5 separate regions of the Homo sapiens genome follow, and regions 1, 3, 4 and 5 are each reported to be linked to region 2. Evidence: microRNA targets listed by miRTarBase, many of them from high-throughput screens and not tested one by one. Region 2 holds a microRNA gene; each other region holds the end of a gene's coding sequence.
What was found. The annotated mature microRNA hsa-miR-124-3p reads UAAGGCACGCGGUGAAUGCCAA and lies in region 2 at 3,038-3,059, shown strand. An mRNA with a match to its seed (bases 2 to 7 or 8) in the 3' UTR can be bound and repressed. Matches are read on the target gene's strand: a 7mer-m8 pairs with bases 2 to 8, a 7mer-A1 pairs with bases 2 to 7 and ends in A, and an 8mer does both.

Region 1 (6,020 bases), not on the chromosome of region 2:
TACAGCAGCCATGACCCCAAACATAAGTCAGATCCCATCACTGCCCTCATAGACACTGCCCAGCCCTGCCCATGGCACCTACCACCAAGTTCAAAGTCTTCACTCAGCCGGAGCCCTGCATGAGTCGTCTCTAGCCACCTCTCCTGCGTCTCCTGTCACCTCCCTGCCCCTCTGCTCCTGGAGCTCGTCCAGCAGCTGCTGCCTTGGCCTGTGCACCGACTGTTGTGTGTTTCTGGCTCCTTGTTGCTCAAGTCCCAAGGGGCCTCCCTGCGCAGTGTAGTCACTCACCCTCAGTCAGTCACACTCCCTGCTGGATTTTCATCAGCGCTCCCTTTTCTGAAGTTGTCTGGTTCCACGGTTGATTTTCTGGTTCAGCATTGGACTTCCTTTGTGAGAATGTCATGTGGGAGGGAAGGGGCTGTGTCCTTGTTCTTCACCCTTCTCGTCCTAGTGCCTGACACACAGTGGGAGTTCATTTTTTTTTGGTGTGTGTGTGTATATATATATATATATATATATATATATATATATATATTTTTTTTTTACTTAGAGACTGGGTTTCACTCTGTTGGCCAGGCTGGTCTTGAACTCCTGGCCTCAAGTCATCCACCTCGGCCTCCCAAAGTGCTAGAATTACAGACGTGAGCCACTGCACCTGGTCTAATTTTTATTTATTTTTTGAGACAGGGTTTTGCTCTGTTGCCCAGGCTGCAGTGCAGTGATGCAATCATAGCTCACTGCAGCCTTGACCTCCTGGGCTCAAGTGATTCTCCTACCTCACTCTCTCGAGTAGCTGGGGCCACAGGTGCCCGCCACCATGCCCAGCTAATTTTTTTATTTCTTGTAGAGACAGGGTCTTGCTATGTTGCCCAGGCTGGTCTCGAACTCCTGGGCTCAAGCAATCCTTCTGTCTGGGCCTCTCAATGCAGTAATCCCTCATGTGGGATTACCAGCATGAGCCGCTGCACTTGGCCTACAGTAGGAGTTCAATAAATGTTTCTTGAATGTTCCATACATGTTTATGAGGTCTGGCCTTCAGACTTGGCATTAAAGCGCCCTGAGATCTTGGTCAAGAGCCTGTTTCCTCATCTATCAGATGTGGCTGAAGGTCCCCACCTGTGCCCTCCCAGGCTCTGGGAGGACCCATGGAGACAGGAGGGCAGAGGGAAGGGGTTCCCGCGATGCCAATCCTGGGTGCCGTTCTCCCTGAGCCCTCCCTACAGGATTGAGAAAGTGGGTGCCGTTCTCCTTGGGCCCTCCCTACAGGATCGAGAATGTGGGGCCCAAGCTTTAGGAGGATGCGCCTGACCAAGGTGGCAAGGCGCTGTGCTGAGGAGAGCCAGCACAAGGGGGCGCCCGAGGCCTGCCACAGGTCGAAAGAGGCCCTGCCTTGTCCTGGCGGTGAAGGGAAGGTGGCCGACGCCGAGGGCCGCACAAGGACACTGTCCCCAGCCCGAAGCGCCATACTGCTTTGCTGACGCTGTTAAAAATATACGTTCTTTTATGAAGTGATAGTGATTATAGGTGACGGTTCTAAAAAAATGTCCCCACTTGCCCAAATGAAAACATTGACAACCCAAGGTCAGTCCCAAAACGTTTTGAAGAAATTTGGGGTCCATGAAACCCTAAATACTAGTCTGTTGGGTTGTGGGATCAGAGGTCGAGATATGGGATTCTTGGAAGAGCCTGCTAGAAAGTGTGACCACAATCCCCCATCCCAACATACACACACACACACACACACACACACACACAAACACAGAGGAATATGTGGTACATCTGTGCATACACACAAGCACACTCAGACACCAGTACATATGCACACACACCAGCACACATGCACACACACACTAGCATATATGCACACACACCAGCACATATGCACACACACACCAGCACATATGCACACACACAAGCACACATGCATACACACACTAGCATATATGCAGACACCAGCACACATGCACACACACACACCAGCACATATGCACACACACTAGCATATATGCACACATATCAGCACATATACACACACACCAGCACACATGCACACACACACCAGCACATATGCACACACACACCAGCACACATGCACACACACACGCCAGCACACATGCACACACAGCACATATGCATACACACAGCACACATGCACACACACACCAGCACATATGCGCACACACAGCATATATGCACACACACCAGCACATATGCACACACACACAGCACATATGCACACACAGCACATATGCACACACACCAGCACATATGCACACACACCGGCACATATGCACACACACAGCACATATGCATATACAAACACAGGCAAAGGCAAACACGTGTGTGAACCCTGGGGTGATGCACACTGACATGGTTTGGCTCTGTCCCCACCTGAATCTCATGTTAAATTGTAATCCCCACGTGTCGAGGGCGGGACCTGGTGGGAGGTGGTTGAATCATGAGGCGCATTTCCGCCATGCTGTTCTTGTGATAGTGGGTGAGTTCTCACAACATCTGATGGTTTGAAAATGTGGCACTTGTCCCCTTTGCTCGCTCTCTCCTGCTCCACCATTGTGAAGACGTGCTTGCTTCCCCTTTGCTTTCTGCTACGATCGTTAAGTTTCCTGAGACCTCTCAGTCATGCCTCCTGTTAAGCATGCAAAAGTGTGAGTCAATTAAACCTCTTTTCTTCGTAAATTATCCAGTCTCAGGTAGTTCTATTTATTTATATATTTTTTGAGATGGGGTCTAACTCTGTCACCCAGATTGGTGTGCTATGGCATGATCTCGGTTCACTGCAGCCTTTGCTTCCCAGGTTCAAGTGATTCTCCTGCCTCAGCCTCCCCAGTAGCTGAGATGACAGGTGTGCGCCACCATGCTCGACTAATTTTTATGTAACTTTTTTTTTTGGAGAGATGGGATTTTGCCATGTTGGCCAGGCTGGTCTTGAACTCCTCACCTCCAGCAATCCACCCGCCTTGTCCTCCCAAAGTGCTGGGATTACAGGTGTGAGCCACCACACCTGGGCTCAGGTAGTTCTTTATAGCAGTGTGAGAACGGATAATACATACATAAACCATGCAAACACATAAACACAGGCATTCACAAGTACACACACGCACTGTATACACACGTGCATGCACACATAGACATATACACACACATGCATATATGCACACGTGTCCACATGCACACACACCTGCACCCATATGCAAATACAAGCAAATACAAATGCATACATACACACGTGATGTACACAAACATGTAAAGACACAGGCACATGCACACAAGCAAATGCGAACATGCGTGCACATGATGCATGCAAAACACATGCAAATGAATAGGCACACACATGTGCATGCACAAATGCACACACGTACAGAAAGATGAAGTCCCAAGAACATTTAGAGCCATGCGCAGGCCGGCACCAAAGGAAAGAGATGCCTGTCCGTCAGTGCTGAGTTTGCAGGGTCACTGGACTCTGGGGACGGCCTGTGAGTTTCCCAGGCAGACGTCAGGCAGACAGCATTCAAGTGAGAAAAGTGTCGTATATTCAAATTTATTTAGATGAATGTCCAGCCACAGTCCTCTGTGGATTTGTGTACATTCACTTTTTAAAAAAATGGTTTCCATAAAAGGATTTTTGGTAATTGCCTAATTTTTAATACAGTATTTATATACAAAACCCACTTCAAACTACTTACTGTACAAGAGAAAAGAGAAGCATCAGATTGCATGATTTTAGCAAATAATGGAAATGTACGACACCTATGAACTTTGACCACAGTTGGCAGATTAAAGGGAATGTAACATCACATCAATGAGATCTTCAAGACAAATTTATTTCTATTTTTCCTCCTGGCCTTTGCTAAAATGATGTTTCTCTTGGTGCTTGAGAAATTTCAGAGAGTTGTTTAGTATCATTGCTGCAAATTTAGATCACTCATATCATTTATGAGACTTGGTTTTATACACTTTTAAAATAATTGTCCAACAGTGACATTCCTGTGAGTAAAAATATAGAGAAGTGTTACCAAAATATAAGCCTTTATTAATAAAAATCTTTGGTAGTAACAGTATTTTAAATTCCTCTCAACGATATTTGGTTAACTAATAAACTCCCTCCACCTTTGAGCTACAGAAAAAAAATCCTCAATCTACCATATAATTGATATTTGAAAAAAAACCCATAAATATTCTAAAGCTTCCAGGGGACCCCTGGAAGCCCTAAGACTTCTTGAAACCCTGACACCATCTGTGGAAATGCTTCCGAGGTCATCTCTCTCTGCCCATTTTCTGGTCAACCGGTTTTGTCCCATAAGGAAGATGAACAACTCTGAGGTCGGCTTGGTGTGATGGGGGCAGGTGTGTGGCTGACAGTGGGGAGCCTGCTGGGGACGCCAAGGGTGCTGTTTCCTGCTTAATCAGGGACACCTCTGTCCCCTTCTAGCTTTCCAGGGATAACTGGGATGCTCCCACGCCCCCTGTGTGGCTCAGGGATGAGGCACTTCTCTCTCAGCCACTCAACTGATGGAAGGAAAAGGCGATGGAAAGTCTAACTTTTCTGAAACAGGTAGGTGACACCTTTTGGAACCGGAATCAATCATTATTCTTGCGTGGGTTTTCCATTTTCCCTGAAGCATCGCACCAGCTTTTGCGCGATGCCTCGGCTTACCATTTTGCATCTATCTTAAGGAATTAGGAGGATTCAGAGGAGGGTTTCTACGGGCCTCTGCTCACTTTTCACCTCTAGGGAGACTCAAGTTTCCAAGCATTCTTTCTGCAAAGCACCTGCCTTTGCTACCTTATTGCCGTATTACCAGCCATCATTTTGATTCATCTTGAATACTACAGATTAAAAAATATTCCCTGCATAATGGCTTTGTGCAAAAACAAGGGAAAGAAAACAGAAAGAAGAAAGGAAAATGTCCTATCAGAAAGTGGTCCTCCATGTTTGCAGAAAACCCAGGACCCACCGGGCCCTGGTGGGAGCGGGAAGCCGCCTGCCCTGGGAGAGGGTGCCCATCGGTCAGGATGCCCGGCTGGCCTGCCCAGCCCCGCTGGCATAGCTACAGGACGCCCCCGTGGTAGGCATGGCTGGGGGCTGGGCTGCCGAGGCTGTCTGGGCAGGCTTTGGTGTTGTGGTGGTTGCACGGCGGCTCGTCCTTCTGCCGCTCCTTCTCCATCCAGGTTTCCAGCAGCTGCTGCTTGTCTTGCTCCTCCCGCATGAACAGCTCCACCATGAGCACCTTCTCCTTGTGGATCTGCTGGCTGATGTCCTTGGGGATGTCCGGGATGACCCAGTCCACAAAGTCGCTCATGAACATGACCAGGTTCTGGAAGGAGAGGCAACGCGTGGCAGAAGGGAGGATGGCGCCTGGGGAAGTGCTCCTGACCTCTCTGCCTGGCCCCCATCTGGTGGAGTGCCACCCCACCACCTCCTGGCCCATTGACCTCCCTGGGCCTCAGTTTTCCAGAAGCTATAAAGGAGGCATAGAACCACCCGGCAGGCCTCTGGGAAATGTTGGCCGACTTTCTCGAACAAATCTGAACTCAGTAATTGGGAAAATCATCTGAGTCATTCTGAATTCTTTGATCAGGAGACTCAGGAAGTGACCTGATGGATCACACATCGCCAAATCTAACGAGCATCGAGCCTTTGGGGAAAAACATGAAACTGGAAATAGCCACAAATGGATCAAACTTTTACAGTTTGCAAAGCGTCCCAGGGTCTCCCTGAACATCTACCACCTCCACGGAGACATTTCTGGTGGATAGAAGGCAACATAAGTCAGTTTTTATGGAAAAACGGAATCTTCTTGTTTGCTGAACATCTGTCCAGCAAGCACGTGTGAGCACCCCCGGCTGAGCAGGTTCCCGCCACGGGCGGTGCTGGTGCCCCCTGGATTGGTGTCTTCTCCTGGTTGGTGCTCCCAGTCCCCAGCTGGGGCTGGGGTTGGCTGCTCACGCTCGCAGCTGCAGAACTTATGCCCCATCCCATCTCCCTCTTCCCAGCCTGG
Region 2 (6,020 bases):
TATTCAAAATTGCTCATTTAAATTTCCAGTTTGATGTGTCTTTTAGCTTATTTCATAACCTGACTTTAGTGTGACCTGTAAAGGCCTGGAAAATCATATAAAGCAAAAACAATATGCAGGTTAGAAGAATTAAAATAGTTCATAATTAAAATTAAGTTAAAATTACATCATTTAAAAGGACCTTGGAGTTTATAAATAAATTAATTTTTGATCTTTATTCATCAGATTTGGCTATAAAATGAAACTGCAGTTCTTTGAATGTGCAGGTTGCTGGAATTAGATGCTACATATATTTTGAACACACATACTTATTTTAATATTTTAGTTTTAGACAACGTATTCAAAGTACTTGAGAAGAATATGCAATGACATTTTTTCCGTGTCCTAATCAGGACCATGGTGAGGTCCCCGTGGTTCACCGAGTGGTGGTCCAGGGCTCTGGTTGGGACGCTGAGTTAGGTTGGCAAAGCGTCATTGTTTTGAAAGGCACATTCGTCCGGAATGGCATTCGTGATAAGATTAAACATAAACCTAAACCTTGGCCTCGGGGGAAGGCAGGCTGCGGGGTTGAGAAGAGGAGATGCAGATTAGCTCTGCTTTTGCTGCTTGCGCACATAATTAAGAGGCGGTCCCTCAGCTGGAGCGTGGGCTGTGTCCGGCCTAAGGTGCTTATTTTCCTGTTACTTGGCCAACCGAGTGTGAGTGAACAGGAGCCCGAGAGCTTAAATGTGGGATCTAGATAAGGTGTCGACTGGGTTGTGGGCGTTTGTCTCCATGTTAGGGAGAGGCAACTGAGAACGGTGACTTTGGCTTGTTTTGAGAGAGCCTGGGTTTTGACAGCAGGACGGCGAAGGGAGCGCTTGGAGAGGCTGGAAGCTCGACGTCTTAGGGAGCTGCCTGCGGGCACTGGGTTGACGCCAAGAGGTTGTCGGCAAGGGCAGGGCTCTTGCCCTCTGCTGTACCTAGGCTCTGCAACTGGGGGCTGCGAGCCTTCTGCGGCTCTTTGGTTTCAAGGACACAGCGAGCTGCTCAGGACTTTGGGAGCCAACATCTGTCTGACTGGTGACGTCAGCAGCCCGTGTAATCCTCTTGTGCTGAAGGCAGATGCCTTATTTGTTTGGCTGGAGCGAGCCATTAATCCCTAATTCTGGATCAGCAAGCGAGGGGGAAAGACCGGACCGCTCCGACCCACCCCCTCCCTACCCCCACCTCCCACCTTAAAGCACCTTATACCACGGAAGGCTCTCAGCCTCTTCTTTCCTCTGCGAACGCGCTGAGCAGCGATTGAAAACGTTTTGGTCCTCTGCAGGTTTGAACAGGGCTAGCAGGTCTCTCTCCGGATTTCTAGGGCTATGGGTATATGTAATTCTTTCTCTCATCGATCGTTTCGATTCTCTTGCCGGTCTTGCAGTTTGCAGGGTCCTAAACGAAGAGGGGTGGAGATTCGAGAGTGCGGGTCTGGCGTGTGGTCCAAGGGAGGGGGTGAGGCTGGGAAAGGGGGTGCAGAATGCGGGAACGGCTGGGACTGCACAGAAGGACCATCTGCGGACTCGTTTTCACTGCTCCAGCTCCCGAAATCGTTTCTCTGGACGCGGCAGTATCCGCAGCGCATGCACCCTCCTCTGGACTTCCGCAGCCCAGACCTGCGCTTACAGTCATCGCGCCACCCCCTCCCCCCGGGCTGCGGGCCCCGCGCTCCGTGGGCTCAGGGTCCCCTCCGCGTCCCCCTGAAGCCTGGGGACGGAGGTCGCGACCGGCCGACTGGGGTCCTGTCCTCTTGTCACCTTGTATCCCTCGCATGCTCCCTCCCGCCTCGTGTCCCTCTCCCCACCCTCCCCCTCCTCTCTCCCGCCTCCCTAACACTGCGCTTTGATTCTGTTTTTCAGGGGCGCATTCTGGGGTCTCTGCGCAAGACCAGCTCTCAGCTCTCTCTCCTTTCCTCGGACTCTGGAGCGGGAGCGGGCCTTTCCCTCGGGTCGACCACGCCGTAGGGGACGCCGTGAAAAGAGCCGTCGCGCCCGCTGCCTCCTGCCCGCTGCGCAGAGGGCTCCGCCCGTAGAGGTCAACTTCCCTCACCCTTTTCTCTCTCCTGCTTGCCCTCCCTCCGCCCGGCCCAGGCGCTTCCAGCCCCAGACTGTGGCCACTGGCTGAGGAGTGCGAGTCGGCTGCGCTGCCCTGAGCCTAATCCCTCTTCCGGGCCCAGACCCGAGGTCCGCGCTCCTGGGCAGTGGGGAAGCTTTAGTGAGCAGGCTTTTCTCTCCGCAGCAAACTTGTAGCCAGACCAGATGGGCCGCCCAGCTCTCTCGGGACTAGGCAGGTGCGGATGAGTTAATTTTTCCGCATTACAAAGAAAGATGACCCAGCCCGCCCTTGGACTCTCTTTTCCCAAAATCTCCCAACCAAACCCGCGGTAACGTTATCAAAGGACACAGAGCCCAGGCATATCTGTGTGTTTATCTTACAGGCACACACGCATGGTTTTCTCTTTTATATGCTAGATTTCATCCCTGACAGCAGAAAATGATTGGCAATGGTTATGACGGAGAACATGCAATAGCGTGGTCCTTAAAAACCTGCCATTCCTTACAAGTGCCTTAGAAAGGATTCAGGGCGAACCAACTGGGTTAATTGCATTCAGTAAAATAACACGATTACAAAATTAGATCTGTACCAGAGGGGTAATTAACTTGGATCCACGCCGTCATTTGAAAACTAGATTTATAGGCTTATGTATGTTTTTAGGCGTGTGCTGTAAATGGCATGGAGATATATGCATATGTATACGCAGGCACACGCACCGTCTACACTTCCACGGAACAGACTAATTAACAGCGGCTCTGGCAGATGTGTCAGAGATGAGCAGAGACAGGAGCTGGGCTTATGAGTTATGACTCTAGGGGTAGAGACTCAGAGCGGAGAGAGGGGGATGGGCAGGGAGAGAAGAGTGGTAATCGCAGTGGGTCTTATACTTTCCGGATCAAGATTAGAGGCTCTGCTCTCCGTGTTCACAGCGGACCTTGATTTAATGTCATACAATTAAGGCACGCGGTGAATGCCAAGAGCGGAGCCTACGGCTGCACTTGAAGGACACCAAAGCATCTCAGGGTCAGAAAGGGGAAAAAGCAATTGCAGGGAATTTAGGGGGTAGTAAAAGGAACCCATCTCTTGCCGCATAAATGCCCCCCACCCCCACCCAGGACTGATTCTGGAAGCAACCTAGTGTTCGAAAGGGAAAGGCTCCTACTTTTCCATTACAGCCGCGGAAATCCGCAGGCAAATCTCCGAGGAGAATTTTAGGGAAGCTTCATTGACAGCTGTCTGGAGAGCAGTAGTTCCCGCCTGTGCAAATATTCCAGAGAGTTAAATCATTTAGAAAGCACTAGTTCTTTCAAGAACAGGTAGTGTGATTGTCTGCAGTCCTGGGCCAAGCTGGGAAAACAAAACAGCAGAGAGAGGTGTAACATTAAATAGCGTCCTGACCACACTGCGCAAGAAACAGCAAATGAAACGTCCAAACTTTGGAAAGATCTGAAGAACACTTGCCGCCCGCATTTCCCCTTGACTTCTCCCTTTTTCTTCCCAATCTCGAGGCGTTCATGCCTGGCTTTAAGACGCCAAGATAACTCTCTTGTTTTGGCATTGTCGCAATGTCCAAATCGGTCAAAGGAGTGGGATAAGGTGAAAGGACCAGGTCAGAAACTTTAGAAGGACTCGGTAAATTAATTTGTTTGGAAGCCAGTGAGGTGGACTATGTTGAGGTAGCAGTTCCGCACCACGACTTTGGAGCCAAAGAAAAACCCAGGCCGAAAAAGCGAGCCTTGATGTCTTTGTTCTGCCTTGGCCTGCAGGGGTTGGGAACAAAGGAGAGGAGCTAAGAGGATGCACCAAAGTAGCCGCGCCCTCCCTGCCTGGCGCTGTCCGCGGTGCTGACCGTGGCCCTTTTCTCTCTCCGTAATCAAACTGGAAAAGCAATAGGACCGTCCCGTCCCTACTCAAAAGAAGAGTAGGATATTAGGTAATTTGAAAAATAACATTTAAAAAGAGAAAAAGGTCACATACAGCAAAACAATATTTTACTGAAATCGTTCCCTCAAGCTGGTTGCTACCCTTGCCTGACACTTTTTGGTCTTCACGTAGGAATGCACACATACATACATTGTAAGTGTATGGGGAAACCATTTCCACTTTATTTAGGCTGAAACCTAAATCGCAGGATTGCAAGAAGGAAATTGAGGAGAATGAAGGCTTTATTATTATCCTTTTCTTTCTTAAATCATCTTCCTTAAAACAGAAACATAAGGTCCTCAGCCGCGGATTTTAGTGCTTACTTGGTCACCAAAGGGACGTGCAATGGACTCAAGTGTGGGCCTCGAGGCTTAACTAGGAAGGGGTGGGTCGGGGACCCACCAGGTGAAACAGGGCAGGAGCCCATGCAGCTTGCCACCTTCGGCCAGGCCTTGCAGCCCGGCAGCCTTAGTAGACGGGTACAGAGGGCTGAGCTCTGCAGACCGCTCTGCTGCGCAGGAGCCTGCTCGGCGCATCCCAGCCGGCGGGAGGCACTGGAGGGCCAGGAGGCCTGAAACCCGCACTGCGGAAAAACCGACCTCAGCCACATCCTCATAGCTCACGCGACGGAAAGAGGCAGGGCGGTTTACTAAATCTTATGCAGTGAAAATTCGCCTTAGAAATCGAAGGTTGGATGAGTCAGTATTGATATATTCAAAAATCTAAATTTCTTAGCATATTTCATCGTTCTTAGATGTTGAAAGTATTAAATGTAAACAATACAAATTTAAATTCCCTAAGTAATGAATCAAAATGGCAAGGGAGAGAGAGAGAGAGAGAGACGGAAAATCAACCAATTCGTAGCCACCCTGGCTGGCTATTTCTCAAAAGAAATTTCTATGCATTTGCTTGAGTTTGTCTATAAATTCACAAACATAAAGGGTGTTAAAATTAGTAACAGACAAAATAATTCAGGTTGGACAATAGAGACAGCAACACCGATTTTGATCCAGGTATAACAATGGGCCATGCATTGACAATGACCTAAAAGACATGTGTTCATTAAGTTATTTTTTTTACACGGGATGTAGATGTATCATAAAATTCATGAAATAAAGCGGCCAGGTGCAATATCCTCAGAGAGCTGCCTTCTCACCCCCTGCCTCAGGGCGGATTTTATCTGTCCTCGAATTTTAGAACTCTGCAAGTCGGGTCTTTCACATTCATCGATTACTTTGGTTTATATTTAATTTTATCCAATTTCGGAGTGGGTGGGTAAAGCACACTGGAAAATAGGGGCTGCTCGAATTACAAAATTTAAGGATTGGGAATATTCCTCTTGTGCCAATTAAAAGCAGTCGTTGGAAGCAGAAATGAATTTAAAGCATTACACGTTATCATGGCGGCCTTGCTTTTTCCTTCCAGTATTCATCCAATTGCGCTGATCTCCTGCATCCACATCTTGCGTAATCCACAAAGCAGCTATGGTCCAGGGCTGCAAAATCGTCCTGCCTGATTCCTTTAGAATTCATACTACCTCAGAGGAGCAAACCTAATCCCCTCAGCCTAATCCTACCTGTTTAGGATCATCTAAACTTGTCCTTCAGAAAGCTTGATCAGTTTAAAATTGCTTTCTAAATAGAAATGAAATACGTGATATGAGAGAGGTTAAAATACTGCTTAAAAAGGGAAACACTCAATTTAGTAATTCGGTTGCCTAGATGAAATCGAGTGGCTATTGATCCGTGATGTTTCTAGATTTTTAAGACTATGTACTTCCTATTTCTTTGGAAAATAATCATCCAGTTTGATGCCCATTACAAATTTTCCTGCTATGAAAGAAATTCTATGCGCGGCAGTTTTGCAATAAAACAACCCGGGCTTCGCAATGGGAGAACTTCGGTGCGGCGTGCCGTGAGAGTCCTTTGACAATCTCAGCTTTCATCTAGGTCTGAAATTAAAGCTTCTCGGAATAATTTAGGAACAGCTTGACCCGTTGAGATACTCAAGGACAA
Region 3 (5,224 bases), not on the chromosome of region 2:
AGTTAACCCAGGGCTCTGTGGAGTGTGCTGGGTTGTCCAGAAGTTCACCTGGAGTCCTGGTCTGCCAGGCTTTAGGCACAGGTTTTACGTTAGAGACGACGGGGGAGTCTGGGCAGTCTTTGGCAAACATTCATTGGAACCTGCTCTGTCTGGCTTTGTGCTAGACCCTGGGAATGCAGGGATGAAAACCGGGGCTGCTTGTGGGTAGGGAGTGAGGGTGGGAATGGGTGGCTTGTGCGCCTGCCGTGACGCAGCATGGTGGGTGCCACGGTGGGAGCCGCTGTAGGGAGGGACTGGGCCTGGTGTGTTAGGCTCACCGAGTGTGTGTGACAGAAACCCAGCTCAGGCTAGCTGAAGTAAAATTAAAAGTAAAAATTAAAGGAATCCAGCACCCTTGAGCGTAAAACCACTGGAGAGAGTGTCGGATCTGTGCTGAATTCCGGGGAGTGCCTCTTAGTACCTGGGTGGTGAGGGGAGGTCCCTCAGCTTATCTGAGCCTCTGTCTTCCTATCTGAAGCAGTGGGGCTGGTAGAGGTCGCTGATGCCCCTTGTAGTGACTATCCCCCCGGGCCATGGCCATACCTGGCCAGCAGCCCACTGCCTGCTGTGAGCTTGGTTTCTGTATAGTTCCAGGTATTCCTGAAGCAGATCAACAGCTCCCTGGTGGACTCCAACATGCTGGTGCGCTGTGTCACTCTGTCCCTGGACCGATTTGAAAACCAGGTGGATATGAAAGGTACATGAAAGGCAGGCTGTCAAGGCAAGTCATGCAGGGTAAGAATGCTGGCATCAGACACCCTGTCTCCAGCAGGGAGACAAGAATGACTGAGGGAGCTGCACCAGATGCCCACGTGGCCGGCCTCAAGGTGGCGGCTTCCAGGGCAATTGGCTTTGCTGCCTTGTTCAACACTTTAATAAGGTGAAAATCCATTGTTGCTAGCAAGATGCAAAGAAAACCAGAAAAAGACCTTCCTCTTCTGGGCTGGTATTGCCTGGCACGATGAGTTGGCCCCCTCGTCCTCAGTGTGCTGTGCGTGGCATCGCAGGTGCCCTGTGGTGCAGCAGGCATCTGAACCCTCCTGGACTTGCTAACGCACTTCCATGTGTATGCGCACGCGTTTCCTTTTTTTCCTAGGAGAGGGCTTGTGGCATCCAGCAGATTCTCCTGAGGGTTTGTGACCCCCCCACACCCCCAAAAAGTCAGGCACTTGTTCCTTGTCACGGTCACTGTCATTGATAGCAAGAAGTATCCCGGTTGTTGGTAATTTAGCCGTTTGCTTCCTTTTTCTGCCCCAGAGGGTCTGTTTCAGGGGAACAGCCACACAGATTTTGGTACCTTCGGTTATTGCCCTGCCTCCCAGTTGTGCGGGAAGCAGTTGCTCCGACACTAGTGGACGGAGCAGAACCTGTGCCTTGTGGTCTCAGCACTGGGCCGGACTCACCTGAGAGCTGGTGTGGAAAACCAGTTGCGCTAGGACCTCTGCAGAAGGAGTGGAACTTTTGCGTTGTTTTTCTTAATGCAGCGTCATGGATCCATCTTCCTGTGGAGGGAACTCTTCTGTGTGTGATATGGAGGGCACGGGTCTGGAGCCAGTCTGGGGAGGGCTGAGGGAGAGCTGCCCTGAGCTTGGTTCTGGAGGATGAGGTGGGGTGCTCCTGGGCACTCTGAGAACATGGCTTTGCCTGGTAGCAGGACAGCTGGAGGTCCTTCTTTCTGCCACAGTCAGCTTTCGTTGAAGCTGTTTTGATGATGAGCTCCTAGCTTCAGAGTCAGGACCCAAGCGGGGCTCCACGAAAGGCCTGGGCGACCCAGCCACTGGGCCTAAGCCTGACCTGCTGCACCCCTGCCTCCCTCCACAGTTGCCGAGGTACTGTCTGAATGCCGCCTGCTCGCCTACATATCCCAGGTGCCCACGCAGATGTCCTTCCTCTTCCGCCTCATCAACATCATCCACGTGCAGACGCTGACCCAGGTGAGAGGCCCCGGCAGACACACAGCAGGGAAGGTCGATTGGAAACCACTTCCTTTGTCCTGGTGCCCAGCAGGTTTCTGTCCCCCACTCCAGAAGTGCGTCTCTGGAGACCCAGCTCTTCTGAGGACTGTGCTCAGGAGGAATCAGTGTCCCATTGTACAGACAGGGCCTAAGGAAGGAGGGCTCGCAAGTGCCCTCAGGTCACAGGCTGACTTGCAGGCCAGTGCTCTCCCCGCCTCCCCCATGTCCACGTCCCTCACACCTTCTGCCCTGCTGGGCTTTGGAATCGGACCTGAGGCTGCCCAACTCCCTCACTGAATAGTCATGCAGCCTTCCCTTCTCTGAGCCTCCTGCCCCTCTTTTCTAGAGTGAGGGTGATCTTAGCACCTCTCAGAGGTGGTCTTTGGTTCCGTTCTGAGGTGAAGCACCAGGTGGGAGTGCATGGTGAGTGGGGCAGAACTCTTTCCCCACCGAGGCGCGCAGGCTAGTGCTGAATGGCACTTCTGAAGCGGGATAACCGCCCCAACACACGCACCCAGCCCTGCCTGGGACGGACCTTCCGGAAGGAGTGATGCTTGAGCCCAGGTCTGGACAGGGACAGGTGTTGTTGCCTCAGGTGGGGTGGGAGGTGGGCGTGGGGAAGAGGAAGGTGCTCAGTCAGGAAACTGGGGCTGCTGGGGGCCCCCTTCCCCCAGTCCTATCTCACCTCTGTGCAGGGAGAGCTCTGTGGGTGGCCCGAGGCCTGGGGCCACTCTCCTCCCTGCCTGATGGCTACCCAGGTTCACCAGGGGCCACTGGGGCTCCCACCAGCCCCTGACCCTGTGGGCCTGTGGCCTTGCAGGAGAACGTCAGCTGCCTCAACACCAGCCTGGTGATCCTGATGCTGGCCCGACGGAAAGAGCGGCTGCCCCTGTACCTGCGGCTGCTGCAGCGGATGGAGCACAGCAAGAAGTACCCCGGCTTCCTGCTCAACAACTTCCACAACCTGCTGCGCTTCTGGCAGCAGCACTACCTGCACAAGGACAAGGACAGCACCTGCCTAGAGAACGTGAGTGCCCCACCCTCAAGGGGGTGATGGGTGGGCCGCGGACCCAGGGCCTCTCAGAGGGGTGTCCCGGTGCTGGGCTTGACCTGGGTCCTCCAGGCGCCCCCCAGCCCCTCCCTCTTTGCCCAGAGCTCCTGCATCAGCTTCTCATACTGGAAGGAGACAGTGTCCATCCTGTTGAACCCGGACCGGCAGTCACCCTCTGCTCTCGTTAGCTACATTGAGGAGCCCTACATGGACATAGACAGGGACTTCACTGAGGAGTGACCTTGGGCCAGGCCTCGGGAGGCTGCTGGGCCAGTGTGGGTGAGCGTGGGTACGATGCCACACGCCCTGCCCTGTTCCCGTTCCTCCCTGCTGCTCTCTGCCTGCCCCAGGTCTTTGGGTACAGGCTTGGTGGGAGGGAAGTCCTAGAAGCCCTTGGTCCCCCTGGGTCTGAGGGCCCTAGGTCATGGAGAGCCTCAGTCCCCATAATGAGGACAGGGTACCATGCCCACCTTTCCTTCAGAACCCTGGGGCCCAGGGCCACCCAGAGGTAAGAGGACATTTAGCATTAGCTCTGTGTGAGCTCCTGCCGGTTTCTTGGCTGTCAGTCAGTCCCAGAGTGGGGAGGAAGATATGGGTGACCCCCACCCCCCATCTGTGAGCCAAGCCTCCCTTGTCCCTGGCCTTTGGACCCAGGCAAAGGCTTCTGAGCCCTGGGCAGGGGTGGTGGGTACCAGAGAATGCTGCCTTCCCCCAAGCCTGCCCCTCTGCCTCATTTTCCTGTAGCTCCTCTGGTTCTGTTTGCTCATTGGCCGCTGTGTTCATCCAAGGGGGTTCTCCCAGAAGTGAGGGGCCTTTCCCTCCATCCCTTGGGGCACGGGGCAGCTGTGCCTGCCCTGCCTCTGCCTGAGGCAGCCGCTCCTGCCTGAGCCTGGACATGGGGCCCTTCCTTGTGTTGCCAATTTATTAACAGCAAATAAACCAATTAAATGGAGACTATTAAATAACTTTATTTTAAAAATGACTGCTGTGGACCTGGCTTTTGTCCCTAGGACTGTGTTTTTCCTCCTGAACCCCAAAGAAAAGAATGAGAAGGAAACTGGCTGTGGTGTTTATTCAGGGCCCAGGGAAGGCTGAAGGCAGCAGGGGGCGATGCAGAGATGGCAGGATCGGGGCAGGTGGCCTCAGCCAGATGTGCAACAGCAGACATTCCTCTTTAGAGCCCAGGGGGTCAGGCCGTCACTCCTTGTGCTGAGGAGAAAGGGATAGCTGAGTGAGCAGTACTACCTGTCAGCCCCCACAGTCCCCCTGCACAGAGAGCAATGCCCCTGCCACTCCTCACCTTGGGGCCCAGGGCGTCCCGGGTCCGTGCCCGCAGCTTGTTGGCCTGGGTTTCCGCCATGTCTGCCCGCTCCTCCGCATCATCCAGCTCGTGCTGGGCCTTGCGATACTTGGCCAGGTTGGTGTTGGCCTGCTGCTCCTGGGGGCACACACAGGGCCTTGGTTCCGCTTGGGTGACTGAGATGCTTATTCTGGTCCCTGCCCCAGTCCAAGAAGGGAGCTAGCTCCTCCTGGTTCTCAACTTTGTTCCTATTGCCACTGTCCATCCTCACCAATACCACAGCGGGAATAAGGAAGTTGGGACGCACCAACTTCATGTGCCTTTTTGTGCCTGCCCCACCCCTCAGAGGCAGCCCCAGCCTTGGCCAGGGGAAAGCACATGGGGTCTGTTCCATGAGAAGGAGCTAGGTCTGATCTCCCCAGAGATGTTAGAAGCTTCTCTCTTCCCTCTGGGTCACTGACCTTGGAGGGTGGAGCTGCTGCTGATGCCTCACCTGGCCACAGACCCTGGGGCAGAGCTGGGGTGCCCGGTCCAGGTGTCCAGGCCCCAGCGCACTCACCGCCTCCTCAAACTGGCGCTTGTAGCTCTTGACCTTGCTCTGCAGCTTGTCCACCAGGTCCTGCATGCGAGCCAGGTTCTTCCTGTCCTCCTCGGCCTGGGCGGGCAAGGGGGACTCAGGGCTTGCTTGGGCTGGGCCAGCTCCAGGGCCACTCCCCAGGGAGACCCTGTCGCCCACCTGGTATGCGAGCTCCTTGACACGGCGCTCATGCTTGCGCACGCCCTTAAGGGCCTCGGCGTGCTTCTTCTGCTCTGCATCAAGCTCAGCCTCCAGCTCCCGTACCTGCAGGCAGGGGGACAGCCTGATGCCAAGCCCACCCC
Region 4 (6,020 bases), not on the chromosome of region 2:
AGTTTGAAACCAGCCTGGGCAGCGGAGTGAGACCTCATCTCTTAAAAAATAAATAAATAAAAATTAAAAAGAGCAGGACTGATCTGATTCATCCCTGGAGTCTCATTTCTCAGCACAGGACTGGATTCAAGAAGGGAGAGGCTGGTTAATATCTGTATGTCTACCTTTCTAGAAGAATTGACCAGACTTGGATGTCAGGAGACAGTCGAAGGAAAGTCCTGCCTGATTATGGCAGCGATGGTCATCCCGGAGATGGGGAACAGAGAAAAATGCTTTGAGTGTAATATGACAGAGTTTGGATGAAGGAGTTCCTTAGCTTGTATTCCTCTAAAAGGAGACCCTGAGATGAGAATTTGTGTGCAACGACTTTCCTGAGGAGGTGATTCCAGTATGGACTGTGATGGTGTAGGGAAGAGAAATGAAACAAGGAGAAAAACCAACAAAGCATGTGTTTCTTTGTTTTGAGACAGGGTCTTGCTGTGTCACCAAAGCTGGAGTACAGTGGTGTGATCACAGCTCACTGCAGCCTCGACCTCCTGGGCTCAAGGGATCCTCCCACCTCAGCTTCCCAAATAGCTGGAACTACGGGCACGCCACAACACTTGGCTAATTTTTGTATTTTTTATACAGATGGGGTTTCACTGTGTTGCCCAGGCTGGTCTCAAAATCCTGAGCCAAACTGCCTCAGCCTCCCGAAGTGCTGGGATTACAGGTGTGAGCCACCACGCCTGGCGTAAGGGTGTGTCATTTGTCAGGTTACCACAAAGAGCAGTTGGAGCCTCATCCCAAAAAGGACACTCTGAGACACTGTGAAGAACACCCCATAGCAATGTTCCTTGAGGGGCCAGGTGGTTGGGGTATCTATTCCCTGATTTGTGTCTGTCACTGGCTAAAAGCTGCAGAAATGTCCACACACTTCAGGCCTGCTGAGAACACGGAGCACACTCCCTCCTCCCAAGAACAGCCTCAGACAAGAAACTCCAGAAGGAGCTGCAAGTCAGGGTATCTGGAAACTGTCACAGTATATGACTTCCAAGGTGGGCCATGCAGGTATATGGGTGGGGCACCCACAGTGTCTGCTTCAGAGGGTGATGAGTTTAAAGTGCCTGAGAGAAATCCAGTGCCAAGTGTCAGAGGACACGTGTGTGTTACAGACATTTCAGATAAGGTCCCTTCACCACGGCCGTCAAAGGCCTTCATGATGTGACATCTCCTTCCTCTTTGGCCTCCCCATTGCTGGCTCCAGTCCAGCCACAGTGGCCTTCTTTCTTCCAAGGCATCAGACTCTCTCCTCCTCCCTGGCCTTTGCACCTGCTTCCTGTCTGCCGGGAATGCTCTCCTTGGCGCCTTGCACAGCTGGCTCCTTCTCCATGTTCGGCTCTCAGCTGAGACCTTACATTTTACTACCTGGTGAAAGTAATCTCTTCCCCACCTCCCCTAACTTAGTTCTCTATTTCATCCATTGTACTCTCTCTCTTTCCTTCCTTCCTGGTTCCTTCCTTCATTAACAAACACGTATGGAGACTGGCTATGTACTGGACCTGTTCTAGACACCAGGGAGAAAATGGTCAGCAAAACAAATGCACTGCCTGCTCTCGGGAGCTTCTGTTCCGGTTGCAGAATCAGACAGAAGCCAGAAACAATAAGGTCCAGGTGTGGTGGCTCATGCCTGTAATCCCAGCATTTTTGGAGGCTGAGGCAGGGGAATCACCTGAGGTCAGGAGTTCGAGACCAGCCTGGCCAACAAAGTGAAACCCCGTCTTTACTAAAGATATAAAAATTAGGGCTGGGTGCAGTGGCTCACGCCTGTAATCCCAGCACTTTGGGAGGCCAAGGCGGGTGAATCACCTGAGGTCAGGAGTTCGAGATCAGCCCGACCAACATGGAGAAACCCCGTCTCTACTAAAAATACAAAATTAGCCGGGTGTGGTGGTGCATGCCTCTAATCCCAGATACTCGGGAGGCTGAAGCAGGAGAATCTCTTGAACCCGGGAGGCAGAGGTTGCAGTGAGCTGAGATCACGCCATTGCACTCCAGCCTGGGCAACAAGAGCGAAACTCCATCTCAGAAAAAAAGTAGCCAGGAGTGGTGGCACAAGCCTGTAATCCCAGCTACTCAGGAGGCTGAGGCAAGAGAATCGCTTGAACCCAGAGGTTCAACCTCAGGAGGCAGAAGTTGCAGTGAGCCCAGATGGCACCACTGCACCCCAGCCTGGGCAACAGAGCGAAACTCTGTCTCAAAAAAACAAAAACAAAAACTCCTACTTGCAAGAGCACTGCATGCTAGGAAGGAACTAGGGAGGGGCCGTGGCACGGAAACCAGGGAAGCATTGGCTTTAGCTAGGCGGTCGGGAAGGTACCGCTCCTTCATCACGCATGTCACCTTTGTACTTGGCTGTCATCTGTCTCCGCTACTAGACTTCAGCTCCCTGAAAGCAAGGGTCATAGCTGCTTGGTTCCCCATTGTCTCCCCAGAGCCTGGCACAGGAGTGCTCAATAAATATTTGGTGAATGAATGAATGCCAATTTGGGCATCCTCAAGATAGGGAGGTGATTACAGGCTGGGGTTGGGGGTACATTCTTTGGGGAGAATATGTGGAAGGGGAAGAGCAGGAGACCTGGGAAGACCATGGGAGAGGAGCCTTAGAGAGGAAGAGATCTGGGGGCCTGGGAGAGGCTGGGGCCATGGACGCCTCACCTTTTCCTTGTGCCCATACATGCTCCCTGCGGCTTCTAGCTCTTCCTGATGAGCTGGAAAGGGCTCTGAGGACCTATCATTTCCAGCACCAGAGGTCCCTAGAGTCTAGACCCAGGGGACCACCCTGGGACTTAGGGACTCAGATGGAACCTGAACTTCTTCACACCTGAAACCCTTGGCTCCATCTTCCACACCTGAAAACCCCTGGCCCCATCCTTCTCTGCTAGGACTTGGCTCAGGTCTTGGGTGTCAGTTACTCCAGGATGCATCCCTTGACTCCCAGTCTGGGTTAAGAAGCCACCTTCTGGCTTCTACAGCCCCCAGTGCTTCCCTCAGTCACAACCTGGCCACACCAAGTGTCATCCTCTGTCCAGGTATCTGCCTCCTCAGCCTGGGGCTCTCCAGGGCAGTGAGCCTGACTCATCTCTGGACCCAGCACCACCCAGCACAGGGCTAGGCCGGGAGAAGCCTCAGGTGGTGGCAGACAGGCCAGCAGGGACAGTAAGTAATGGCTCTGAGTGCGCTGATTGTTCTGCCTTGACTGGGACACCTGGGGGTGGGAGTGAGAAAGGGTTAAGCTGAGGCCGTAACTACATGAAACATTCAGGTGATCCAAGATGTTGTGGGTCAATAGTAAGAGGGAAGCTGTACCTTAGTGCCCAGAACCAAAAGGTGAGCACAGCTGGCACTCTGAATAGAGCTCCATCCCTCAAGGCCCTTTAATAGGAGAAAAAATCTGGGAACCAAAGGCAGTGCAGGAGGGGAGCAGATTAAGTTCTTTCTCTCTCCTTCCTTCCTTCCTTCTTCCTTTCTCTTTCTTTCTTCCTTTCTTTTCTTTCTTTTTTTTTTTTTTTTTTTTTTTTTTGAGACGGAGTCTCGCTCTGTTGCCCAGGCTGGAGTGCAGTGGCGTGATCTCGGCTCACTGCAACCTCTGCCTCCCAAGTTCAATTGATTCTCCTGCCTCAGCCTCCAGAGAAGCTGGGATTACAAGCGTGTGCCACCATACCCAGCTAATTTTTGTATTTGTAGTAGAGACGGGGTTTCCCCATGTTGGCCAGGCTGGTCTCAAACTCCTGGCCTCAAGTGATTCACCCGCCCTGGCCTCCCACAGTGCCAGGATTACAGGCATGAACCACTGTAAGCGCTTATTTCAAGAATAAAGGGAAGGGCGGGCACAGTGGCTCACACCTGCAATCCCAGTACTTTGGGAGGCCAAGGCGGGAGGATCGCTCAAGACCAGGAGTTCGAGGTTGCAGTGAGCTATGGCACCACTGTACTCCAGCCTGGGCGACAAAGTGAGACCTCATCTCTTAGGACAAAACAAAACAAAACAAAATATAGAACTGAAGAAAGAGTAATGAGGGCGGGAATATTCGGTGGGGCCCCAGTTGGAGCTCTTGTCCTGGCTCTGCCACTATCTGTACAGTCCTGCGCGAGTCGCCACACTTTCCAGCCTCAGGCTCATCTGATACTTGAAGTAGGAAGTGCAGGAGTGGCTACCTGCAAGGGCTGAGGCTGCAGGTCCCGCTGCGGCCACAGGGCAGTGACCTAGAGACGGCCGGGGACAGAGCCAGCGCGGGGGTGGGGAGTCAGGGCCAAGCTCCTGCGCGCATTCAGAGACAGCACCAGGGAGAGGTGGAATGCGTGTGTTTATGTAGGTAGAAAAAGTGCACAGAACAGTGAGGGTGCAGGGAGCAAGGACGTCCTGGCCTGGCCTCCGATTCGCTGGAATTGCAAGGACCCTCCCCCAGTAAGGGGGCTCCCTCAAGGGTGGGAATAGAGTGGAGGCCCGCACGGGAGTTCTTGTCTGTGTGCAATCCACTTTGTGGGCGTGTGGGTTTAGGTCTGGCTGGGCCGTTTCTGAACTTGACCCCTGAGGACTCATAGTACCTTAGGGGCGGGGCTCTCCAGTGGGTGGGGCCTCCCGCTCTGAGAGCAAGGCCTCGGGGTCTGGAGGACCCGGCTTTTCCGGGAGGGCGCGGCCTCCGGGGGAGAGGGCGAGCCGAGCGGGCTGTCAGCCGAAGAGCTTCAGGAAGCAGGGCTGGCAGTAGGGCTTGCCGGCGCGCTCCTGGAAGGACCCCTTGGTGAGCGGGCGCAGGCAGAAGGTGCATGTGAAGTGGTCCGGGTGGAAGCGGCGACCCAGGGCCGACACGCAGCGGCCGGTCACAGGGAGGCCACACGTGGCGCACAGCGAGCCGCGTCGTGCGTGGAAGTGGTTCTCGCACAACGGGCGGCCCTCGTGCTCGAAAAAGCTGCCTCCCGAGAAGGGCGCGAAGCATTCCTGGGGAAGGGAAGCCGCGAAAGAGGACAGACAGGTCAGCGGCCACTGCCAGACAACGCGCGTTACTAGCGGATAACGCCCTGGGACCCCGCAGCCCGCCCTAGACGCGAAGAATCCCGTCCGGTGGGACCCTGCCCGGAAAACTCGCCCCACCCGAGGTTCCTAGCAGCACCTCCCGTGACCCGCCCCCCCGAGGGCCCGCCCCCTGCCCTGCACCCTTGACCCGCCCCTCCAAGGCCCCGCCCCACAGCCCTGTACCCTTGACCCGCCCCTCCAACGCCCCGCCCCGCAGCTCGCACCCTGCAGACGAAACAGTCCGGGTGCCAGAGCGCGCTGAGCGCCGAGATGTAGTTATCCAGGATGGGGCCCTGGCAGCCCTGGCAGCGCGGGGCGAACAGCTGCAGGAAGTCCCGGCGGCAGTAGGGGCGGCCCTCGCGCTCGTGGAAACCTAGGAGAGGGAACCGAGTGGGCTGAAAGCAAAGGGTGCGGGCGGGACGGGGGACCCACAAGACCTGAGATCTGGGGCCGAAGGAGGGGCAGTCCGAGGGAGCCTTGGGGAAGGAGGAGCCGGGTCTATGGCGGGACAGAGCGGGGAGGGCTCGGGTCCGGAGTCTGTGTAGGAGAGGGCAGGGCCAGAAGAGAGCAGAAGGAAAACCATGGCCCTGAGGACTCCGGAGGTCGGAGGGGCTGGGGCGAGACGTCGAGGGGACCCGCAGCTTTTAAGATGGGAGTCGAGTTCACTCTCACCCTCATCTCCGAAGGGCTCCCCGCAACTGACGCAGCAGAAATGCTCTGGGTGCCAGTGAGTGCCCAAGGCGGTCACCATCTTCTGCAGGGAGGGAGAGGGCACTCAGCGCGGCCTCCGTGCCTTCGCGCCTTCCTCTCCCGCGCGGAACCCGGGTGACTGGACTAAGGCATGCGTGGGGGGAGGGGGAGAAGATCTAACTAGGAACGTGGGGGTCAGAAAGGAAGAGTGGAGTCCAAGGGGCCGTGGACATTGCCAAGGGGAAGGGGTAGGGGTGGAGTGGGGTATCGCGGGTGG
Region 5 (6,020 bases), not on the chromosome of region 2:
ACCCAATATTGCTTTCCTGAGAAATCTCTGCTCTTGTTGGGGTAAGAAGCTTCTTGTGTCCATAGTATATTCTCTGAGCCCCAGACTACTGGAAGATGTTACCTTGTTTTTTTTTGTTTTTGAGACGGAGTCTCACTCTGTAGCCCAGGCTGGAGTGTAGTGGCACAATCTCGGCTCACTACAACCTCTGCCTCATTGGCTCAAGCAATTTTCAGGCATCAGCTTCCCAAGTAGCTGGGATTACAGGCATGCTCCACGAGACCCAGGGTTTCACCATGTTGGCTAGGCTGGTCTCGAACTCCTGACCTCAAGTGATCCTCTGGCCTTGGCCTCCATGGTGGGATTACAGGCGTGAGCCACCGTGCCTGGCTAGAAGATGTTACTTTTCTGTTTTACAGTTTACCCTGACTCCTGCTCATACCTGCACTTTTCTTTGATTTGTAACATTTATAAGAAGCTCCCTGGGCTTTCCTTTTATTTCATCTCTCTGGCATGGCCAGCTGAACATGGAATTGACCCATCAGTCTTTTTTTTTACACTCTTATTTATTTCCCGGTACTACAGACTTAACTTCATTTGTTAATGTTTCTTTTAGTAACATTCAGAATATCAAAGAGAAAAATAAGTGAATAAACAAAAAATAAAAAGAATATCAAAGAGAAAAATTGTTTGTTACAGGAAAACTAATCTTTCTTCCATTTTCTTCCTCAGAAATGAACGTGAGGGAATTCCAGCAAATCTGATCCAACAGTTGGACGTTTGTGTGGAAATTCCTCAACAGGGCATTATCCGCTCCCTGAATGTCCATGTGAGTGGAGCCCTGCTGATCTGGGAGTACACCAGGCAGCAGCTGCTCTCGCACGGAGATACCAAGCCATGATGTGCCTTCCTTAGTGAACTGCTGCTGCTGTTCAGACTTTTTTAAAAAAAACTATTTGGACTAAAGAAACAGATTCTGAAATTTATTGTGATAATTTGTATTTCTTTTTTCTTGCAATTTAATGCCAAAAGTTTGCCATGTGCCTTAAACATATTACTATATATTTTCCCCTTTAATAAACACTTTTTGTTAAATTGTATTCTTCCTTTAATAAAATATTTTAAGCAATTGTGGAAATAAAACAATGGATTTTTTAAGAGAGAATTTATTTCCTAGAAACGCCTTTTGTCAGAAGTGTGGACTATGATAAAGCAGAGTTAAAGCAGCGATCATCTGTGAACACTCATACCCTTGAGTCATATGGAGACCAGGGAGGTTGAGGCAAAGGTTCCGAATGAAGAGGGGTCATCAGCCTCTGTGCCGCTTTCCGTCTCTGTACTCCCCTCGGGAACACATTTGGCAGGATGCAGAGCCAGCATCCCTGTGAGGCTCAGAATGCTCAGGTAGTAGGCTTTAATTTATTTTTAAAGCCATGAACTAGGCCATAATCATTCACAGTAAGTTTATGGCCAGGTGCTATGGCTCACGCCCCCCACACTTTGGGAGGCCAAGGCGGGTGGATCACCTGAGCTCAGGAATTTGAGACCAGCCTGGCCAACATGGTGAAACCCTGTCTCTACTAAAAATACAAAAATTAGCTGGGTGTGGTGACATGCACCTGTAATCCCAGCTACTTGGGAGGCTGAGGCAGGAGAATTGCTTGAACCTGGGAGGCTGAGGCAGGAGAATTGCTTGAACCTGGGAGGCAGAGGCTGCAGTGAGCCGAGATTGCGCCAGTGCACTCCAGCCTGAATGAGAGAATGAGACTCCATCTCAAAAAAAAAAAAAAAAAAAAGTTTATATGAAGTTTTTCATATCACCTTTGCACACAGAGATCAAATAGTGGTTAGAAATAGTCTATATTCTGACAACTATGAACATGGACCTAAAGGAGTTGAATTACTCCTGTATATCTTTATCGCAACAGAATGGAACCTGTAAGTGTTGATTGTTTCTGTTCTTTCAATTTTTTTCCTCTGGCATTTATTACTTAATTATTTATGAGTAACTATTTATCACTACCCAGCAATGAATTTCAATTATATCTGGGTCCTTTTAAATAATATTTAAATTTGAGCCCATTACCTGTAAATATTTTCTTCTGCAGTTTTCTTTAGAAATGACTGTTTTGTAGAAGGGTTGCAAAGAGAGTACACAAAGTTTTCATACACCCTTCACCCACATGCCTCTAATGTGATCTTAATAACCATGGTAACCTTCATCAAAGCTGAGAAAGTAACCATTGATAATGGCTCTCTTCACTAGACTATAGGCTTTATTCAAATCTCCCATTTTCCACTCTGTTTTCCACTCTGTTTTCTGCCCCAGGAGCCAACCCAGGATACCACATTGTGTGTTCCCTTAGTCTCCTCATATCTCTGACAGATCTTCAGTCTTTCCTTGTCTTTCCATGACCTGGACACTTGAAGAGTACTGGCCAAGTATTCTGTGAATGTCCCATAATTTGGGCTTGTCTGGTGTTTTCTCATTAGACTGAGTTTGTGGGTTTTAAGGAAGAACATGCCAGTGGTCAGGTGCCTTCCCATCACATCGTGTTAGGCGGCTCATGGCACCAGCAGGATGGACTACCCCCATCAATGGATGAAGGCTGCGCTTGCCACATTCTTCTCTGTGAAGTTGCTACCTGTCCTCTTAGTCTGTTAAAAGTGAGTGACTAGGGTGGGCGCGGTGGCTCACGCCTGTAATCCCAGCACTTTGGGAGGCCGGGGCGGGCAGATCACGAGGTCAGGAGATCGAGACCATCCTGGCTAACACGGTGAAACCCCGTCTCTACTAAAAATACAAAAAATTAGCCGGGCATGGTGGTGGCTGCCTGTAGTCCCAGCTACTCAGGAAGCTGAGGCAGGAGAATGGTGTGAACCCGGGAGGCGGAGCTTGCAGTGAGCCAAGATCGTGCCACCACACTCCAGCCTGGGTGACAGAGCGAGACTGTCTCAAAAAAAAAAAAAAAAAAAGTGAATGACTAAGCCCAGTCTGTACTAAAGGGTAGGGAGTGTAAACTCTGTGGGAGGGAGGAGTATCAAAGAATTCAGGAGCACCTGTTAAAATTACCACAGTAATTAATATTTGGGGGAGTATTTGGATGCTATGCAAATTACAAGCCCTGTCAGTGGATGGAACTAGGGGATCTGTGTATGTCTACCAACCCATGTATGTACATATCTATGATGTTTCTGCCTTTATCAGTCTAGATAGGTGAACATAAACGTGACTTCGTACTGACATCTCTGACACAATCCAGCACCACAGGATTCATTCTAACATTCACCTCTTGCTTTTAACTGCTTTTTCTGACCTAGACCTGGTTCTCATTATCTATATTTACTTATTTGTTCAATCCTAATGTAAACGTAGTTTCAGAATTGCAAATTTAGCAACTGTGTACAGTTCTTTTTGTCCGTAGCCTTACAGTATCTGGTCAAAACACCATTTTCCAGTTACCTAGGTCAGTCCCTTTCTTACCCACCTCTTTGAAAAGGGTTATGTCATATATTTTATAATACAACTAGACTCATCACGACCTGCATTCCATCTTGTAATCCCCCCTATATCCTGGTTGATTTTATTTGTGCATTCAGGTCACTTTTTATAGTGAACAGTCTGGATTTTGACAAGTGTGAACTCATGAATCTGTCACCACAGTGCCATAGTTTTGTCACCCAAAGTTTACTTGGGTGACCCCTTCATAGTCAACCCCTCTCCTTATCCCAACCATTGGTAACCACTGATCTGTTCTCTATTCTTCAGTTTCACCTTTTCCAGAATCTTATAAATGGCAGCATATAGTATGTAGCCTTTTGGATCTGGCTTCTTCACATAGGAAAGTGCATTTAAAGCTCATCTATGTTGTGTGACTCAGAAGTTAATTTTTCCTTAGTGCTGAGTGGTATCCCATTCATAGATGTATCGCAGTTTATCCATTCCTCTGTTGTAGGCATCTGGGTTGTTTCAAGGTTTTGGTGATTATGAATAAAGCTGCTTTGAGTAAATATTCATATACAGGTTTTGTTTTCAGTTCATTCGGTGAAATACCTAGGAGTGTGATTACCGGGTCATAAGGTAAGTGTATGTTTAACTCTGTAAAAAAGCTGTTTTCCAACGGGGCTTTATTTTTTCCATAGCCAGCAGCAGTGAATGACTGTTGCTCTGCATCGTCGGCAGCACTTGGTGTTGTCAACTTTTTAATTCAAGCCACTCTAATAGGTGTGTAGTGATTATGTCATTGTGGTATTAATTTGCATTACTCTAATGTTTCGTAACATGGAGCATCTTTTGATATATTTTTCAGAGTATACCTTCTAAGAAGTATGTACAAAATCTTATTTTTTAAACTGGATTGTTTTTCTTATTTTGAGAATTACAAGATTTATTCTGGATGCAAGTTCCTCATAAAATATATGATTTGCAAACATTGTCTCTCAGTCTGTAATTTACCTTCATTATTTTAAGAGTATCTTTCGCAGAGCAAAAGTTTTTAATTTTGATAAAGTCCAATTTAGCTTTTACTTGTATGGATTGTGCTTTTGATGCTTTATCTGAAAATTCATTTCCAGACACAAGATCATGCAGAACTTCTTCATATTTTCTTCAAGTTTTATAGTTTTACATTTTACATTTAGCTCTATGATCCATTTTGAGTTAATTTTTGTACCAAGCGTAAGGATGTTAAAGTTTATTTTTTGGTGTGTTTGGATATCCAATTTTTCTAGCACTATTTGTTGAAAAGATTATCCTTTCTCTGTTGAAATGCCTTTGTACTTCTGTCCAAACACAGTTGACTATTATATGGGTCTCTATTGTTCCATTAAACTATATCTTTCGTTTTGCCCATACCATACTGTGTTGATTACTGTACCTTCCAAATATGTCTTGAAATCAAGTAATGTGAATCCTCCAACTTTGTTCTTCCTTTTAGAATTGACTATTTTAGTTCCTTCACTTTTCCATATAAATTTTAGAATCAGCTTGTCAATATCTACAAAAAAGCTTATTGAGATTTTGATTGGGGTTGTATTGAACCTATAGATCAAATTGGAGAGAATTTAACCATATCTTAACAATAGCGAGTCTTCTAATCCATGAACACAGTATAGTCGTCCCTCAGTATCCATGATGCATTGGCTCCAAGACCCTCTGCAGATACCAAAATCTGCAGATGCTCAAGTTTCTTATATAAAATGGTATAGTATTTGCATATAATCTATACATATCCTCCCTTATACAGGCATACCTCATTTTATTGCACTTGATTTATTGTGCTTCACAGATAATGCATTTTTTACAAATTGAAGGTTTGTGGCAACCTTGTGTCAATCATATCTATCTGTGCCATTTTCCCGACAGCATGTGTCTCTGTTAGTTTTGCTAATTCTCACAGTATTTCAAATGTTTTCATTGCTTCATCTATTATGGTGATCTGTGATCAGTGATCTTTGATGTTACTTTTATAATTGCTTTGGGGTGCCACAAACTGTACCCATGTAAGATGGTGAACTTAACTGATAAATGTGTGTGTTCTGGCTGGGTGTGGTGGCTCACTCCTGTAATCCCAGCACTTTGGGAGGCTGAGGCGGGCGGATTCCTTGAGGTCAGGAGTTTGAGACCAGCCTGGCCAACATGGTGAAACACCGTCTCTACTAAAAATACAAAAATTAACTGGGCATGGTGGCACGCGACCGTAGTCCCAGCTACTCAGGAAGCTGAGGCAGGAGAATCGCTTGAATCCAGGAGGCAGAGGTTGCAGTGAGCCAAGATCATGCCACTGCACTGCAGCCTGGTGACAGAGCAAGACTCATCTCAAAAAAAAAAAAAAAATTGTGTGTTCTGACTGCTCCTCTCACTGGCTGCCATCTCTCTCTTCTCCTCAGGACTCCCTATTCCCTGAGACAACAATATTGAAATTAGGCCAATTAATAACACTATTGATGGCCTCTAAAGTGTTCAAGTGAAAGGAAAAGTGGCACGTCTCTCGCTTTAAATCAAAAGCTAGAAATGAAAGAGCTTAGTGAGGAAGCCAATG

Region 1: the mRNA of ANO1 is a reported target of hsa-miR-124-3p. The part of its 3' UTR that is shown has no 7-base or 8-base seed match.
Region 3: the mRNA of MYH7B is a reported target of hsa-miR-124-3p. The part of its 3' UTR that is shown has no 7-base or 8-base seed match.
Region 4: miRTarBase lists TGFB1I1 as a target of hsa-miR-124-3p. The part of its 3' UTR that is shown has no 7-base or 8-base seed match.
Region 5: miRTarBase lists TARBP1 as a target of hsa-miR-124-3p. Seed matches in the 3' UTR shown: 7mer-m8 at 882-888 and 8mer at 1,020-1,027.

The regions. Positions count from the first base shown.
Region 1 is chr11:70,187,054-70,193,073 of GRCh38, reverse strand. ANO1 (anoctamin 1) reads right to left here. Exons shown (of 26, transcript NM_018043.7): 26 at 3,544-5,336. The coding sequence ends at 5,070. Among named protein-coding and RNA genes, the nearest start is that of FADD, 13 kb to the left of the region's middle. RefSeq lists an enhancer at 1,102-1,161.
Region 2 is chr8:64,376,173-64,382,192 of GRCh38, forward strand. It overlaps MIR124-2 (microRNA 124-2), which reads left to right and starts at 2,977; the gene lies at 2,977-3,085. It overlaps MIR124-2HG (MIR124-2 host gene), which reads left to right. Exons shown (of 3, transcript NR_109792.1): 2 at 1,887-2,317; 3 at 5,431-6,020. RefSeq lists an enhancer at 394-971.
Region 3 is chr20:35,001,207-35,006,430 of GRCh38, reverse strand. MYH7B (myosin heavy chain 7B) reads right to left here. Exons shown (of 45, transcript NM_020884.7): 42 at 5,082-5,186; 43 at 4,905-5,000; 44 at 4,346-4,483; 45 at 3,994-4,254. The coding sequence ends at 4,243. TRPC4AP (transient receptor potential cation channel subfamily C member 4 associated protein) reads left to right here. Exons shown (of 19, transcript NM_015638.3): 16 at 628-736; 17 at 1,861-1,973; 18 at 2,815-3,021; 19 at 3,148-4,027. The coding sequence ends at 3,285. Among named protein-coding and RNA genes, the nearest start is that of MIR499B, 13 kb to the right of the region's middle.
Region 4 is chr16:31,476,268-31,482,287 of GRCh38, reverse strand. TGFB1I1 (transforming growth factor beta 1 induced transcript 1) reads right to left here. Exons shown (of 11, transcript NM_001042454.3): 9 at 5,726-5,807; 10 at 5,278-5,426; 11 at 4,330-4,978. The coding sequence ends at 4,712. Among named protein-coding and RNA genes, the nearest start is that of SLC5A2, 3.8 kb to the left of the region's middle. RefSeq lists a silencer at 5,162-5,251 and enhancers at 4,545-5,277, 5,278-6,009, 6,010-6,020.
Region 5 is chr1:234,386,437-234,392,456 of GRCh38, reverse strand. It overlaps TARBP1 (tRNA guanosine 2 -O-methyltransferase TARBP1), which reads left to right. Exons shown (of 30, transcript NM_005646.4): 29 at 1-41; 30 at 712-1,144. The coding sequence ends at 880. Among named protein-coding and RNA genes, the nearest start is that of COA6-AS1, 16 kb to the right of the region's middle.